2 linked regions of the Homo sapiens genome follow. The protein of the gene in region 2 interacts with the protein of the main gene of each other region in a pairwise test. Each region holds a gene or a part of one and is shown on either strand. Other genes may lie near its edges.

The links. Proteins that work in one complex are often made in the same cells at the same time.
Region 1: the proteins of SLC18A1 (region 2) and COL4A5 interact in binary tests that used the Homo sapiens proteins (3 or more experiments, as listed by UniProt).

The regions. Positions count from the first base shown.
Region 1 is NC_000023.11:108,596,838-108,604,453, forward strand, and holds part of COL4A5 (collagen alpha-5(IV) chain isoform 2 precursor), read left to right. Parts: intron 1-160; coding exon 161-231; intron 232-539; coding exon 540-731; intron 732-1,864; coding exon 1,865-2,033; intron 2,034-4,555; coding exon 4,556-4,648; intron 4,649-5,047; coding exon 5,048-5,152; intron 5,153-6,126; coding exon 6,127-6,224; intron 6,225-7,616. UniProt on the Homo sapiens protein: Type IV collagen is the major structural component of glomerular basement membranes (GBM), forming a 'chicken-wire' meshwork together with laminins, proteoglycans and entactin/nidogen.
Region 2 is NC_000008.11:20,165,509-20,173,739, forward strand, and holds part of SLC18A1 (chromaffin granule amine transporter), read right to left. Parts: intron 7,621-8,231; coding exon 7,528-7,620; intron 5,987-7,527; coding exon 5,897-5,986; intron 5,639-5,896; coding exon 5,595-5,638; intron 1-5,594.

The DNA of each region.
Region 1 (7,616 bases), on a different chromosome or scaffold from region 2:
AGGAAAATACAAATGTGACTTAAATGGGATTGAATGGGGTTCTTATTTTAAAAACTTGACTTTCTGACTTGATGATTTCTGTATGAGCTTTGTCAGGAGTTCAAGCTCAAAGCTTACGTTATTGTGTGTGTGTGTGTTTGTTTGTGTGTGTGTGTGTTAGGATCTCTTGGTTTCCCTGGACAGAAAGGGGAAAAAGGACAAGCTGGTGCAACTGGTCCCAAAGGATTACCAGTAAGTTTTGAGTATATTATAAAACAAAAAGAAGTAGAAGGAAGGCATTTTACACATTGATTTTCAATTATTCATATATATACACACATATACAATTTAATTTTTCCATTAAGTTGTACTTTGTTTGATTCCTTGACTCTTCCTGACTCACATGCCTCACTTGATTCAGCCCTTTGTACATTAAATGTTATTGGATGGGTTGAAGGGGTAAACTGGAGAGAAGAAAATGTTAGAAAAAAAGAAACTGATTTTCTTTTTCTCTTTCTTCTTTTTCCACTCTTTTTTCTTTTTTTCCTTACTCATTTCAGGGCATTCCAGGAGCTCCAGGTGCTCCAGGCTTTCCTGGATCTAAAGGTGAACCTGGTGATATCCTCACTTTTCCAGGAATGAAGGGTGACAAAGGAGAGTTGGGTTCCCCTGGAGCTCCAGGGCTTCCTGGTTTACCTGGCACTCCTGGACAGGATGGATTGCCAGGGCTTCCTGGCCCGAAAGGAGAGCCTGTGAGTTGGTTTGATATTTTTGGTTTTGTGATGTTAAATTTTCACTTAGAAATGTTTTCTAAGTTAATTCAAAGGATGGGACTGATGCTGAGATAAACACCCAATCAATGCTTAAAACAATGTGACCATACAGTAATGGCACATTGTTACTGACTACGTAGGGTTTCTGCACTACTCTTTTCTTTCACTTGTTTTGTAAACTTATTTTTCTTAACCCATTAATATTGAATACTATTTTCTATGAATAGGTGGGCAGGAGGTTAAGATGTTTATGAGACAGTATAAGGTTCCCCATCTCTTAACCCCCACATATCTTTCCTTGGGTTTACTTAAACCTCATGACTGGGCATGGTGGCTCACACCTGTAATCCCAGCACTTTGCGAGGCTGAGGTGGGCGGATCACCTGAGGTCAGGAGTTCGAGACCAGCCTGGCCAACATGGTGAAACCCTGTCTCTACTAAAAACACAAAAATTAGCCGGGCATGGTGGTGGGCGCCTGTAATCCCAGCTACTCGGGAGGCTGAGGCAGGAGAATCACTTGAACCCGGGAGGCGGAGGTTGCAGTGAGCCGAGATTGCACCACTGCACTCCACCCTGGGCAACAAGAGCAAAACTCCATCACAATAAATTAAATAAATAAATAAATAAATAAACCTCATAACCAGCAGTTTAACTTGTTTCTATATATATAGTAAGCTTAGAGAATAGTACAAGTAGATAGCCATGTTCAATGTGCCACAGAACTGAAAGATTTAACATAAATGAACAATCTTATTTTGTACATAACACACAGCCCAGGATATTTAGGTAGGAAGTGATATTTTATAATGTTATCTAGACTATAACCTTTCTGACTTACACTAAAATGTAAGCTGCATAAAGTCAGAGATTTTTGTGTATTTTTGTTTTCTGTTGTATCACCAGCACTTGACACATAGTAGGAGCCCAAAAATATTTGTTGGAGGAATGAGTAAGTGGAATGATCACACATACCATCTCATAATACCACTCACTTATATAGCTTTTAAGAAGAACTATTTATGGCTATATCCTTTCCCCAGTTGTATTCAGTACCAACCTACAGATAGTTGTTGTATCTATATGTTTCTGTATTAAACTTTTCCCTTTTTAGGGTGGAATTACTTTTAAGGGTGAAAGAGGTCCCCCTGGGAACCCAGGTTTACCAGGCCTCCCAGGGAATATAGGGCCTATGGGTCCCCCTGGTTTCGGCCCTCCAGGCCCAGTAGGTGAAAAAGGCATACAAGGTGTGGCAGGAAATCCAGGCCAGCCAGGAATACCAGGTAAGTTTACTGTGTTTTGTTTTAAACTTGGTGCTTAAAAACAGAAATTTATTATGTTTTGGCTACTCATGGCTTCCTTTCCCGAGAGGTGTGTTTCCCTGGCCGTTTATATTTGAACTCTTCAGAGCATCTTAGCAAGGGATCACAATGGTTTTTATAAGGGGGTTTCTTTTTAAATCTTTTCTAACTGTTTCATTGTTACTGTTAATTTTGCTCTTTTTAAGTACATGATACATAATGCAAAGTTTAATAAATAGTTATAACAGAAGCACACAGGTAGCTACCACACACATCAAAAAATAGAATGTTACCAGCATCCTAGAAACCCCTAACCTTTTCTCCCTGTCATTTCCTAATCACAATCCCCTTCCTCCTGTCTGCTGTCTTGACTTTTACATAGTTTTCTTCCATTACCCCTCTGTTTTATGACCTCTGTATGCATTTTTAAACAGAGTATTTTAATTTTGTTTCTTTTTGAACTTCATGTTAAAGGAATCATAGGGTAAGTGTTTTTTATATTAACTTTTCGTGTGGCTATAGTGTATTCATTTTTATTGCTATATAGTATTTCATTGTATGTATGTTTATGTGTGTGTGTGTGTGTGTGTTACAGTTGATTGATCCATTCTATGGTTAATGGTTAATTGGGTTATTTACAGTTCAGGTCTATTATGAATAATGCTTCTGTTTACAGTCATATAGATAGATAGCTAGGTAGATAGATAGATCCCTATATCTCCTTGTGTTCATGTGCTCACACTTCTCTAGGGCAAGAGTTGGCACACTACAGAACTACAGTCCATGGACCACATCCAGCCTACCACCTGTTATAAATAAAAGTTTTATGTGAACACTTCCACAACCATTCACTTTTGTCTGTGGTTGTTTTTGCACTACAACTGAAGAGTTGAGTAGTTGCTACAGAGACTGGATGGTCCACAAAGCCTAAAGTATTTACTCTGGTCCTTTACACAAAAGGCTTACCAATACCTGGGCTAGGGTATGTATTTAAGATTAGCATTTTCAAAGCATAGGATAAGTGCATCTTCCACTTGACTGGATAATTACAAACTCTATCCAGACCAATTGTACCAATTTTTACTACCACAAGCAGTGTTGAATATTTTATGTTGATTTACATCCTTGGAAACAATTTGTATTGTCGGACTTTTACACTTTTGCCAATCTGTTGAGTGTGATATTTTGCATTTCTCTGATTAAAGTTTAGCACCTTTTCATGTGTTTATTGGTCATTTGAATTTGCTTTTGTGAAATGCCTAATCAAGTACTTTGACCAATTTTATATTGGATTATTTCTTTTTTTATTGATTTAGAGGAGTTCTTTATATATTCTGTGCATTAGTTCTTAGTTACCTATGTATTTTGCGAAAAGAAATCTTTACCTACTGTGGCTTGCCATTTTTACTCTTTGTTTGGTGTCTTCAATGAGCAGAAAACAACTTTCACATCATCAAAATTATCAATCTTTTCTCTCATGGTTAGTGCTTTTTGTGTCATGTTTAGGAAATCTTTTTTTTCTTGAGCCAATTTCAAGTTCATGTTTCCATTAATAAGAAGTAGATATACTTGAACTTTGCACATGTAAAACCTAAATGTACCTATTAGCCAAAAAAATATTTTCCTTGTTTACTACAGTTTGATTTTTAATGCTCTTTTGGCCTACATTTTAAAAATACTTATATAGGTAACACCCTGTTTTAGGGGTTTCCAGAGAAACAGAACCAATAAAAAGGATGGACAGATGGGTAGATTAGATAGATAGATAGATAGATAGATAGATAGATAGATAGATAGATAGATGAGAGGTGATTTATTATGGGAATTGACTTACATGATTATGGAGGCTGAGAAATCCCACAGTAGGCCACCTGTAAGTTGAAGAACTAGGGAAGCCAGTAGCTTGGCTCAGTCCTAGTCTGAATGCCTGAGAACCTGAGTGGCTGCTTAGTACAAGTCCCAGAGTCTGAAAGCCAGAGAACCTGGAGTTGTGATGTCCAAGGGTAGGAGAGGATGGGTGTACCAGTTTCAAAAGAGAGAGAGCAGAGAATTCACCTTTTTTTCTGCCTTTTTGTTGTATCCGGTCCCTCAGCTGATTGGATGGTACCCACACACATTGGGTGAGGGTGGATCATCCTTATTCGTTTCACTGATTCAAATGTCAGTTTCTTTCGGAAACAGCCTCACAGACATATCTAGAAATAATGCTTTACCAGCGATCTCAGTATCTCTTAATCTAGTCATGTTGAAACCTAAAATTAACCATTATACATCTTGAATCATGGAAGTCCTTAAGGCTGTCATATCCTTTTTCTTTTTGAAATTCTATCCTTCTGTTTTATATATTTCTTGAATATATAGTGGAAGATTGTTTTTCTTGTGAATTTTTGTTAGTTTACATTTTCAAAAGATTGCTGATAATTTTCTTTTTTGTTTTTAATTAAAAAGAGACCTTTAGTTGAGTAAATACTTCTCATTTACCATTGATTTACTCTTGCTTTCAGGTCCTAAAGGGGATCCAGGTCAGACTATAACCCAGCCGGGGAAGCCTGGCTTGCCTGGTAACCCAGGCAGAGATGGTGATGTAGGTCTTCCAGGTATGTGAGGAATTTATTTCAAAGTAACTTCAACACCGATGGCTTTTTTTTTTTTTTTTTTGACAGAGTTTCGCTCTGTCACCCATGCTGGAGTACAGTGGCGTGATGTTGGCTTGCTGCAGCAACCTCCTACTTCTGGGTTCAAGCAGTTCTCCCTGCCTCAGCCTCCCAAGTAGCTGGGATTACAGGCGCCCACCACCACGCCCAGTTAATTTTTGTATTTTTAGTAGAGACGGAGTTTCTCCACGTTGGCCAGGCTGGTCTCGAACTCCTGACCTCAGGTGACCCATTGCCTCAGCCTCCCAAAGTGCTGGGATTACAAGAGTGAGCCACTGCACCTGGCCCTGATGGCTTCTTTCTTTGAACGTTTTCCTTTCAATAACTGCTGTTTCTCCATAGGTGACCCTGGACTTCCAGGGCAACCAGGCTTGCCAGGGATACCTGGTAGCAAAGGAGAACCAGGTATCCCTGGAATTGGGCTTCCTGGACCACCTGGTCCCAAAGGTATGTTGGAATGGGTAGCAGGCAGAGTAGGTTAGAAGTTTAGCATGATGTTATTCTCTCATAAAATTCATTCAACAAATAAAATATATTAATTGCACCTTTTTTCTCTGTGCTATAAAGAATGTAAATAAAAAATCACAGTGTATTTTCACTGTAAGTTCATTATCTTTATCTAAAACAGTCCAGACAAGAAAATATCTACATTTTAGATATGCAAAAGTGATATATAAGCTTAAAAATCACAGGAATTATTGTGTTTTGTGTTCACCATAGTATTTTCAGGGTTTAGAACAGTTCCTAACACATAGTGTGCACTTGATGTTTATTGAGTTAAAGGATTTTTTAAACAGAAAACAGACTTATTGCAGATGTGTAGCCAAGTAATGTTTTATGCTAAATAATATTTTCTTGATTTATTGAAATTTTTAGGGCTTATGCTTCAGTTCTGCTTTATTCCTCACAGAATTTATTCTCACAAATGGCAAGAGCACACAGTGGTCTGAGGACAGTTCTTAAATATATCTTTACTCATTTATACAAAATGCTTTCAAAAGTATCAGGTTTGATTTTATGTGTGTATGTATCTATAATATCTGCAGTTATTTTTAGATCATTTCCAAAATTATATGGTAGGCCCTTTGTCATACTACATCCAGATATAAGCAGAAGAAAAGTTCTTGGGCATTTTTGTGTGGGATTCATTCCTTACAATTTAGTTCTATCTTATTATATAATAGCCCTCATTTTCTTCAGAAAAGCATATGTTCCACATACATTAGCTCTATGTGAAAATAAAAGGAATGTAAGATGATTGAGAGGATTGTAAGGCTTAATCCTAAGTAGTAGAATGTCATTGTGCTTTTGACATCTTACTGTTGTCACTAAGCATGAGTAGAATGTGGGTTTGGGAATTTGAATATCTTTCTTAAAGTGCCTTTCCTTTGGTGGTTAAAAAATGACTTATCATTTTACAGGCTTTCCTGGAATTCCAGGACCTCCAGGAGCACCTGGGACACCTGGAAGAATTGGTCTAGAAGGCCCTCCTGGGCCACCCGGCTTTCCAGGACCAAAGGTCTGGGACATTTTTCTTTATTCCTTCTCATTTTCTTATCTTTCCCACCTTCCTTATTTCTAGCTCTCTATTTTGACTCAGATATCATCCCAAGCCCCAAGTCTTTACTATAAATATACAGATAACTTATTATATTTCCATTAAAAAAATATTTAACCCCAAATCATCTTTAATAGTCCAAGGTCACATTTGGAGCAAAAAAAAAAAAAAAAAAAACCTAATTTCTGTACCTACTTTTGAATGCCCAGTTCTTTGATTAGAGAATACAGGCATACCTTGGAGATATTGCAGGTTTAGTTCCAGACCACCACAATAAAGTGAATATCAAAATAAAGTGAATCACACAACTTTTTTTGTTTCCCACTACATATAAAGGTTATGTTTACACTATACTGTAGTCTTTAAAGTGTGCGATAGCATTAGGTCTAAAAAAAACCATATGCATACCTTAATTAAAAATACTTTATTGCTAAAAAATTTTAGCAATCATCTAAGCTTGCAGCAAGTTATAATCTTTATGCTGGGGGAGGGTTTTGACTCAATATTGATGGCTGCCCACTGATCAGGGTGATGGTTGCTGAAGGTTGGGTGGCTGTGGCCATTTTTTTAAATAAGACAACAATGAAGTTTGCCACATCAATTGACTCTTCCTTTCAGAAAAGATTTCTCTGCAGCATGTGGTGCTGTTTGATGGTATTTTACCCACAGTAGAACCTCTTTCAAAATTGGAGTGAGTCTTCTCAGACCCTGCTGCTGCTTTATCAACTAAGTTTATATAATATTCTAAGTCCTTTAGTGTCATTTCAACACTGTTCCCAGCATCTTCACCAGGGTAGATTCCATCTCTAGAAATCACTTTTGCTCATAAGAAGCAACTGCTCATCTGTTCTACTTTTATTATAAGATTGCAGCAATTCATTCACATCTTCATTCTCTACTTATAATTGTTGTTCTCTTGCTACTTCCACCATATTTGCAGTTACTTACTCCATTGAAGTCTTGAAACCCTCAAAGTCATCTGTGAGAGTTAGAATTAACTTCTTCCAAACTCCTGTTAATATTGATGTTTTGACCTCTTCTAATGAATCCTGAATTTTCTTCATGACATCTAGAATGAAACCCTTTTCAGAAGGTTTCCAATTTGTTTTGCCAGATCCATAAGAAGAATCACTATTTATGACAGCTATACATTACACAATGTGTTTCTTAAATAATAAGACTTGAAAATTAAAAGCACTCTTTGATCCATGGGCTGCAGAATGGGTATTGTGTTAGCAGCCATGAAAAGAACATTCATCTCTTTGTACATCACCATCAGAGCTCTTGGGTGACTAGGTGCATTGTAAATGAGCAGTAAAATTTTGAAAGGAATCTTTTCTTCTGAGGAGTAGG
Region 2 (8,231 bases):
CGAATCCCAAAAGCAAGCACAGAAGCCATAACTCAGAAAGCCTCTCAAGCTTTCTGAATTCTTCATTCTGATCATTTTGAGCCACACTGAACTAAGGTAGAAGAAGCAGGGTTAAAATACAGCCTAAACATCCAGGACCCACTCTCGTCAGGACACACTCTCATCTAAACTTGGTCGCCCCACCCTCTTTCCAAGCATCCCAGCAGTGCCTCAGCCATCATTATTGCCTTTGCCTAAACTACACGTTCTGAGCTTCTCCATAGTTCCATGTTCTACCCACTCTTTAAAGTCAAGCTTAAATGGCTCCTTCTTTTCTAGAGAGCTCCCTGACTCAGTAGCTGGGGCTTCTCTCTCTTCCAGACATCCTGAACACTATGTCCTAATCCTTCATGGTGTTTACTACTTTCTATCTTGTAATAGATTGGATCATTTTGGTATGATAACCCTCTCTGCACACACACAATAGTGGATTGATAAATTTAGAGATCCTAAAACTAAAGAGATCATTCGCTTACCCAATTATTATTCGAAGTAAAGAAACTGATGTAAATCATTAAAATATACATTTAAAAGTACAATAAACCCTTTGACCCAACAGTCCCACTTCTAGGAATTGACTCTAAAGATTAATGACAACATTATAAACATGCAGTCATGCAAATTACAGCACTATTTATAACTATAAAATACTGAAAACTACCTAAACATAGGAGATGGAATAAAATATGGCGCACACACTATTGTGTACACATACAAAATTGTGTGTGGGTGTGTGTGTGTCTATATATATATATATATATATATATATATATATATATATATACACCACCAGGTGGAAAATAATAAGGAAAGATTCTGTGAACTAGTAGAGTAATTTTCAGGACATATTATTGAGAAAAAAAGGAGAACGCAAAAAAAAGAATACATAGTGTGCTGCCTTTCATATAATAGAAAAGGGAAAAATAAGAAAACACATAAGCGATTTATTTTGAGGAAAAAACACTAAGACACAGGAAAGACAAACCAGAAGGCATTAAAATTGGTTACCTATGAGTGGTAGGGGTGGGAGAGGGGGAGGGTTAGAAAGACTGGAGGGATTGACACTTTCTGAGTACACCTTTTGGAATAATTTTGACTTTTAGGTGGTAATGTCCTATATATTAAAAAAATAAATTATATTAGTGTTATGGGCTGAATGGAGTCCCCCCACCTTAGTCAAATTAGTATGTTGAAGTCCTAACCTAATATGACTGTGTTTGGAGACAGTATCTTCAGGGAGGTAATTAAGGTTAAATGAGGTCATAAGAGTGGGGGCTCTAATCTGAAAAACTGTTTTCCTTATAAAAAGAGGAAGGGACATCAGGGCTCTCTTCCTCTGTGCATGCACACTGAGTAAAGGCCATGTGAGGACGCACTGAGAAGGTGGCTGTCTGCAAGCCAGGAAGAGAGGCCTCACCAGAAACCAACCCTCAACAGTACCTTGACCATGGACGTTCAGCCTCCAGAGTCGTGAGAAAATAAATATGTGTTGTTTAAGCTACCCAATCTGTAGTATTTTGTTCTGGCATCTTGAACAGACTAAGATAATTAGCCAGAATGGAGAAAAAAAACTAAAACTAAATGCCAAAAAAAAAAAACCCCACAAATGGATGCAAATGAATTTCAAATGTATCATGCATTACATAATCACACTAAAGGTGGAAAAAAGAACTAATGGAAGTACGGTAATTTCTAGATACAGTATTTGGCTATATTCATTAAGTCTAAGGGAAAAAGAACTGAAAAGTCTTGAATATTTCTTGGTAGCTTTGTTTTTTATAATGGCATGGGTAAGTATTATAGAATTATACAAGTAAGTAAATTTTTTAATCTATTTGTAAAATAGGTGTTTCACCTATTTGTATAATAGGGGGAGACAAATTTCTTACTTTGAAAGAAGAATACATGTATGGAATGGGGCAAGCAGGGAAAAATCCCGTGGAGTTGGGCTGGAAGTGGAGGTCTCAGTACAAACTTGTGTGTGTGTATTAGCTCTGTCATCAAGATGGCAGGGAAACAAGGTGACCCCAATGGCAAAGAGCACATTGAGTCCCCATAGTTTTTTGTTTTTTTTGTTTTTTTTGTTTTTTTGAGACAGAGTCTTGCTCTGTAGCCCAGACTGGAGTGCAGTGGCATGATCTTGGCTCACTGCAAGCTCCTCCTCCTGGGTTCATGCCATTCTCCTGCCTCAGCCTCCTGAGTAGCTGGGACTACAGGCACCCACCGCCACGCCTGGCTCATTTTTTTGTATTTTTAGTAGAGACGGGATTTCACTGTGTTAGCCAGGATGGTCTCAATCTCCTGACCTCATGATCCGCCTGCCTCGGCCTCCCAAACTGCTGGGATTACAGGCGTGAACCACCGTGCCCGGCCCCATAGTTTGGTTTCTAAACACCATTCCCTACTAACAAGAACCTGGGCTCCTTGGGGAAATGAATTCAGGGCTGAGGCAGGGAAAGTACAAGATGAACGTAGGACATATTTTTGTATCGAAAAGTAAAACATTACTCAAAAAACAATGAAGGTATGTTAAAATGACACAGCAACAAGTTAATGGGCTTTGACTTGTCAAATCTAGGACAATTTGAGCATCAAAATAATTAAGGACGGGAGGCCAGGAGTTCAAGGCCAGCCTGGGCAACACAGGCAGACCCGGTCTCTATAAAAAGTTAAGCTGGGTGTGGTGGCATGCCTGTGTAGTCTCAGCTACTCAAGAAGCTGAGGCAAGAGGGTCACTTGAACCCAAGAGTTGGAGGCTACAGTGAGCCATGATCACACCTCTACACTCCAGCCTCAGTCACAGAAAGAGGCCCTGTCTCCAAAAAAAAATTAAACAAGTAAATAGAGTGATGAACTACAAAAATAGGACTCCATGATTCTACACTGATAATATCAGATAAATAAATGTTTTTTAAGTTTTTTGTGAACATAATCACATGTACATAAAATTATTATATACCTATTTGGTATAAATATTTATAAATATATACATATAAAGAGAGTAAGAAAGGAATGGCTATTGCTTTTTTGTTTTTTAGAGTATTTTTTTTGAGACAGAGTCTTACTTTGTCACCCAGGCTGGAGTGCAGTGGCTTACTGCAACCTCCGCCTCCTAGGTTCAAGGGATTCTATTGCCTCAGCCTCCTGAGTAGCTGGGATTACGGTGTGCACCACCATGCCCAGCTAATTTTTTTGTACTTTTAGCAGAGACAGGGTTTTGCCATGTTGGCCAGGCTGGTCTCAAACTCCTGGTCTCAAGTGATCCGCCTGCCTTGGAGGAATGGCTATTCCTTACAGCAAAGTGCCAACTGATGATTTGGATGAATTGGTGAACTAGAAAAACCAGTATTTTGTAAACATTATAGTAAAGATTGGGTCAGTCAAGAATCATCAATGGATAACAAATCTAGGCAGAAAGGAAATTTAAGGAGGAGTAGGAGATTTATATGACTTTACAACATCTCCCACATGTTATATATTAGTTACAAGGTGAAGAAGTAATTACTACACAAGAGACCCAGACAACACCTTGACCCAGTGATCAAAATGGACATCACCACTGAGAGGCGACGGGCATTAAATACCTCCAGACATGAAACTCAGAAGGCTACGGTATCATGAAGAAACATCAGACAAACCAAATTTAGGAATACCCTATAGATAATTGTCACAAATGTCAATGTCATGAAAGATAAAGGCTGAGAACTTTTCCAGATTAAAAGAGGCTAGAGAGGTGTGATGCATAAATGTCTTACACAGTCATGGACTGGGCTTTGCATTAGAGAAAAAAAGACTTCCATGGAAGACATTATCGGAATAATTGACACAATCAGAGTAGGCACGGCAAATTAGACTAAAGTATTATATCCATGTTAAATTTCCTGAATTTGATAGCTCCATTGACATTACATAAAAAAAAATCCTGTTCTTAGGGAAAATGCTCTAAAGTATCAAGGGGTAAGGGAACGATACAATCAATCTACTGTCAACTGGCTCAAAACATTAGTAATAATAATAATAATGTATATTTGTTAGAAAGAGAGAGAATGGGCTGGGTGCGGTGGCTCATGCCTACAATCCCAGCACTTTGGGAGGCTGAGGCGGATGGATCACTTGAGCTCAGGAGTTCGAGACCAGCCTGGCCAACATGGTGAAATCCTGTCTCTACTAAAAACATAAAAATTAGCTGGGCATGGTGGTGCGTGCTTGTAATCCCAGCTACTTGGGAGGCTGACACAGGAGAATCATTTGAACCTAGGAGGCAGAGGTTGCAGTGAGCCGAGATCGCCCCACTGTACTCCAGCCTGGGTGACAGAGCAAGACTCCGTCTCAAAAAAGTAGATATTTATGGGTGCCTCACTTTCCTGGAATCTCAAGCTGGATTTACTTGCTGAGTAATTCACCACTGCTGCACAGTTAATAATAAACAGTGGCTGAACCACCTGGATGAGTGTCCCTACGCCTGGGCCAGGGCTGGAGGGGTGCTGGGCCCAAGCATATGCCAGGCCTGGGAGCCTGTGCAGAGGGTATTTGGTGCTCCTTGCCCTGAGGAGTCCTGGATGGGTGGTGGTTATGACTTCCCTCTCCAGGACCCAGACATCCTACTCCTAAAGCCAGTCTGTAAAGAGCAGAGCATCTCAGGAGACTGCGGGAGGCTCCTAGTTGCTCTGGGGGAATTGGCACTCTAAAAGTATTGATTATGTCATAGTTTCAAATTCTTTCAGATGCTTCTCTGTTCACCCTCGATTTCATTATCTGTAGAGTGAGGCTAAAAATTGTACTTATTTCATGGAATGTGTAAGATGCAGCATAGATGGCGCACTAAGCTGAGCTCCTGGTGCGTGAAAAGCCCTGAAGAATGATGAGGTGTTAGTGTCATGACTTCCGGAATACCTTGACAAGCTGTGGAATGCAAAGTCAAGGCCTTTAGATCAAACATTTTTACACTTGATGCACTTTCTTACTTTTTTTCCTTCGTGGTGGGATATGGATTTTCCAGAGCTGTTTTTGGCTTAGAGTCAAACAAGTACCAACTCTGATATTTATTAACTGTGACAGAATGACAGTTAGGGATATTCACACAGGATGTCTTTTATTGCAGAAGATGTTGTCTAGGTGGCCCCCACAGCCTTCATCTCTGAGATGATGTTACAGCTCCAAATACTCAGTCCCCAATGTCATTATCTCCTAGCTATAATTACATGTGTGTGTGCACATATATATATATATATGGAGATCTCCAGATATACATGAATATATATATACATACCCCATATATGTGTCGAATATATAGATAGATAGATAGATAGATTCTCTATGGCTTCTTTGATTATGCACAAGGTTCTTCCACCATCTTTGTCCAACATCAAGCCAAATACGTCACTATCCCCCACACTACCTGAAACGTAACCCTATCCTGGAATCCAAACACAGTTCTCACTTTCGCTGACCCTATTCCTCTTCACTTTTCTTCTTATGGTTTGGCAGGCATGCCTGGGTTCCTGCATTCAGCCATCCTGTATAACTGTTAGAAATGGAGCTTTGTGTCTGCTTACCTCAGGAGAGACTTTGGAAGGCTGTAGGATGCAAAGCTGGAGTGCTAAGAAACAAAGAAGGTGAGACAGTTCAGCGTGTCTACTGATTAGCTGGGGGCTCCAATAACAGCTGTAGTGCTACCACCCTATTATGCATAAATTTAACTCCCTGAGTTTCTTCTTTCTTTTCTACAACGGGGCAGTCCTTGATCCATCAAAACATGTCCAAACCGCCCATTCTTAGTGAAGACTGACACTACAACATAATGCATTCCCAACCTGACCTGGGCTGTCACCTGCTGGAGGCTCTGATGGTGACTTACCTCCATCCAGTAGTGCCAGGAAGGCCAGGATGAGGAAGGGTGCAGACTTCCCAACAAACTCGTACATTACACTTCCAAAGGGAGCTCCCACTGGAGAGGCATAGGAGACACAGATTCCAGAGGTGAGGGTGAGTCCTTTGCAGTGAGAATTATCCATATTTACCCCGTGAGCATTTGCAGAAGGCCTGCTAGGGGCTAAGCTCCACCTGAGGCTCTGGGAATTCAGAGATGGAGACATGATCCCTGTCCCCATCAAGCCCACTTTCTAGTGGAGGAAGTGTGTGTGTGTGTGTGTGTGTGCGCGCGCGTGTGTGTATGTATGTGTGTGTGTGTGTAGGGAGGGACACAGATAATTAAAGCATGGTGAAAGTTTGACAGTAAAATGTTGCATGCAATGAAAGCACAGTCAATGTCTCAGGAATTTCAGGCAGCCACGAGGGCTTTGCCAAGTGTAGAGTATCTGGAGGGGAAGAAGCTTGTGTGAAGAACACAGAGGTGTCAGAAAAGAGTGTGTAGTTGGAGAAGAAAAAGAAGAAAGCGGGTGTTAGCAGAGTATGAATATTTGCGAGGAGAAAAGTAGAGCCTTGCATATGCAGGAACCTTGTATATGCAGATGAGTCATGTACTTGGCCTTGCGGCCTATGGAGAAACATCAGGTGAGAAACATCACCTGCTCTGGGCTCAGGAAGATTGTTCAGGCAGCATCGTGGTGGAAGGAGGGAGTACACAAGAGGGAGGATGCTGCCAGATTCTAACCCAGAAGTGACAAGGAGCCAGGAGTGGCTGTTGAGGATCTAACAAGCTTGTTCATTTGGGAGCTTATTCATTTGGGACATGATAAAGGATTTCAAGATGCACAGGGTTTAGCTTGGGCATTTGGGTTGATGGATACTAGCAAATAACAGGGATTCTGTTTCCTCTGCTTCCCATGGGGCTAGAGGGTGGGGCATAGGCCGGGGAAGAAATTTCAGGTGTTTTGTTTTCGATGAGCTTGTAAGCTCCTAGAGGGCAGGAACTATGCCTGGGGCTTCCCACCCTACAGTACTGGCACTGTGCTTGGCATGTAATAAGTGAAAGCATGTAGCTTGTCAATTAAGTTGTATGAGGGAGGAGCCTCAAAGAAAGGGTAGTTTTATCGTTTGGGGCTTGGGTTTCCAAGCCCAGAAAATCGGAGTCTGTATCCTGGCTGTGGCGTTTCCTAGCTGTGTGATGTTGGATGGTGTTTTCGCCATTCTTATTTTCATCTCTATAATGGGGAAAATCATTCCTCCTTTCATTCCTGGTGGTGAGGAATAAAAGAGATTATGCGTGTAACAGATTTAGCAGAGCATCTGGCAGCAGCCATGCTCTGGTGCTGTGTGCATGGGAACCGAGGCGAAGCAGTGGCCTCTAAATCGGGGAGGCTCACTTCCTCCAACAGGCTGGGCTTCCGGACCTTTCTCCGACGTTTATGTGTTTCCCAGCTTCTTAAGGAGAAGGAAATTTAACCTTTTCTCAGTGATATTTCTAAAGGAGTTGAAATAGGATGAGGCCAACAAGGGAAGGAAAATACTCGTCTTCTACACCTCGGGAACACCTGCTTCCTAGAGTCCCACCCTCCCGAACCCAGAGCTCCAGCTGGTGCCACTTACCCAGCAACCCCAAGGCCAGGCCCCCCAGAGCAGTTCCCATGGCTCGTCCTCTCTCATGGTCATCAGTGTAGACACTGGCCAGCATTCCAAGACCTGCGCAGAGAGTTACAGATGCAGCTGGCCCCCTGGGGGGCTTCTATCCGCCTCTCAGAGCCCTTGGTCCCACCCTGTTATCTCTTCAGTGACAATCTTAGCTAGAGTTTCAGTTTGAGGGGTTTTACAAAACTTAACCCGTAGTATTTTTCAAGTACTACCCTCCCTAGTCCCCCAAGCCCCCACATTGTCCACTCCTGTTCAGAATATTGTTGATAGTGCAAGCCCTCTGGAAGGATAACACAGAAAATCCATTGTCTGATTATACCATGTTTCATAACATTTTATCATTTCCTAGCACATTTCCCAAAATGAGGGGTTACAGAGCAGATCAGGGAAAGGAAAATCTAGGCACACAGAGACCATTCTATTTAACAGGGGTGCCCAGGGAAGAGCAGGAAAGCACTGCAGACCTGGAAGAAAGTGTGGGCTAGTGCTGTACGGCAGCTGGACCCTCTGGCCTTCATAGCTATGGGTAAAATGGCATAAAATGCCAACTTCATAAGATTGCATTAGATATTATATTCACCAGTACTTTGAAAACTGTGCTGGTGTTACCAGTAGTACTAACATGATTATTCCTATAAAGTACTAAGAGGGGGACAGAAAAA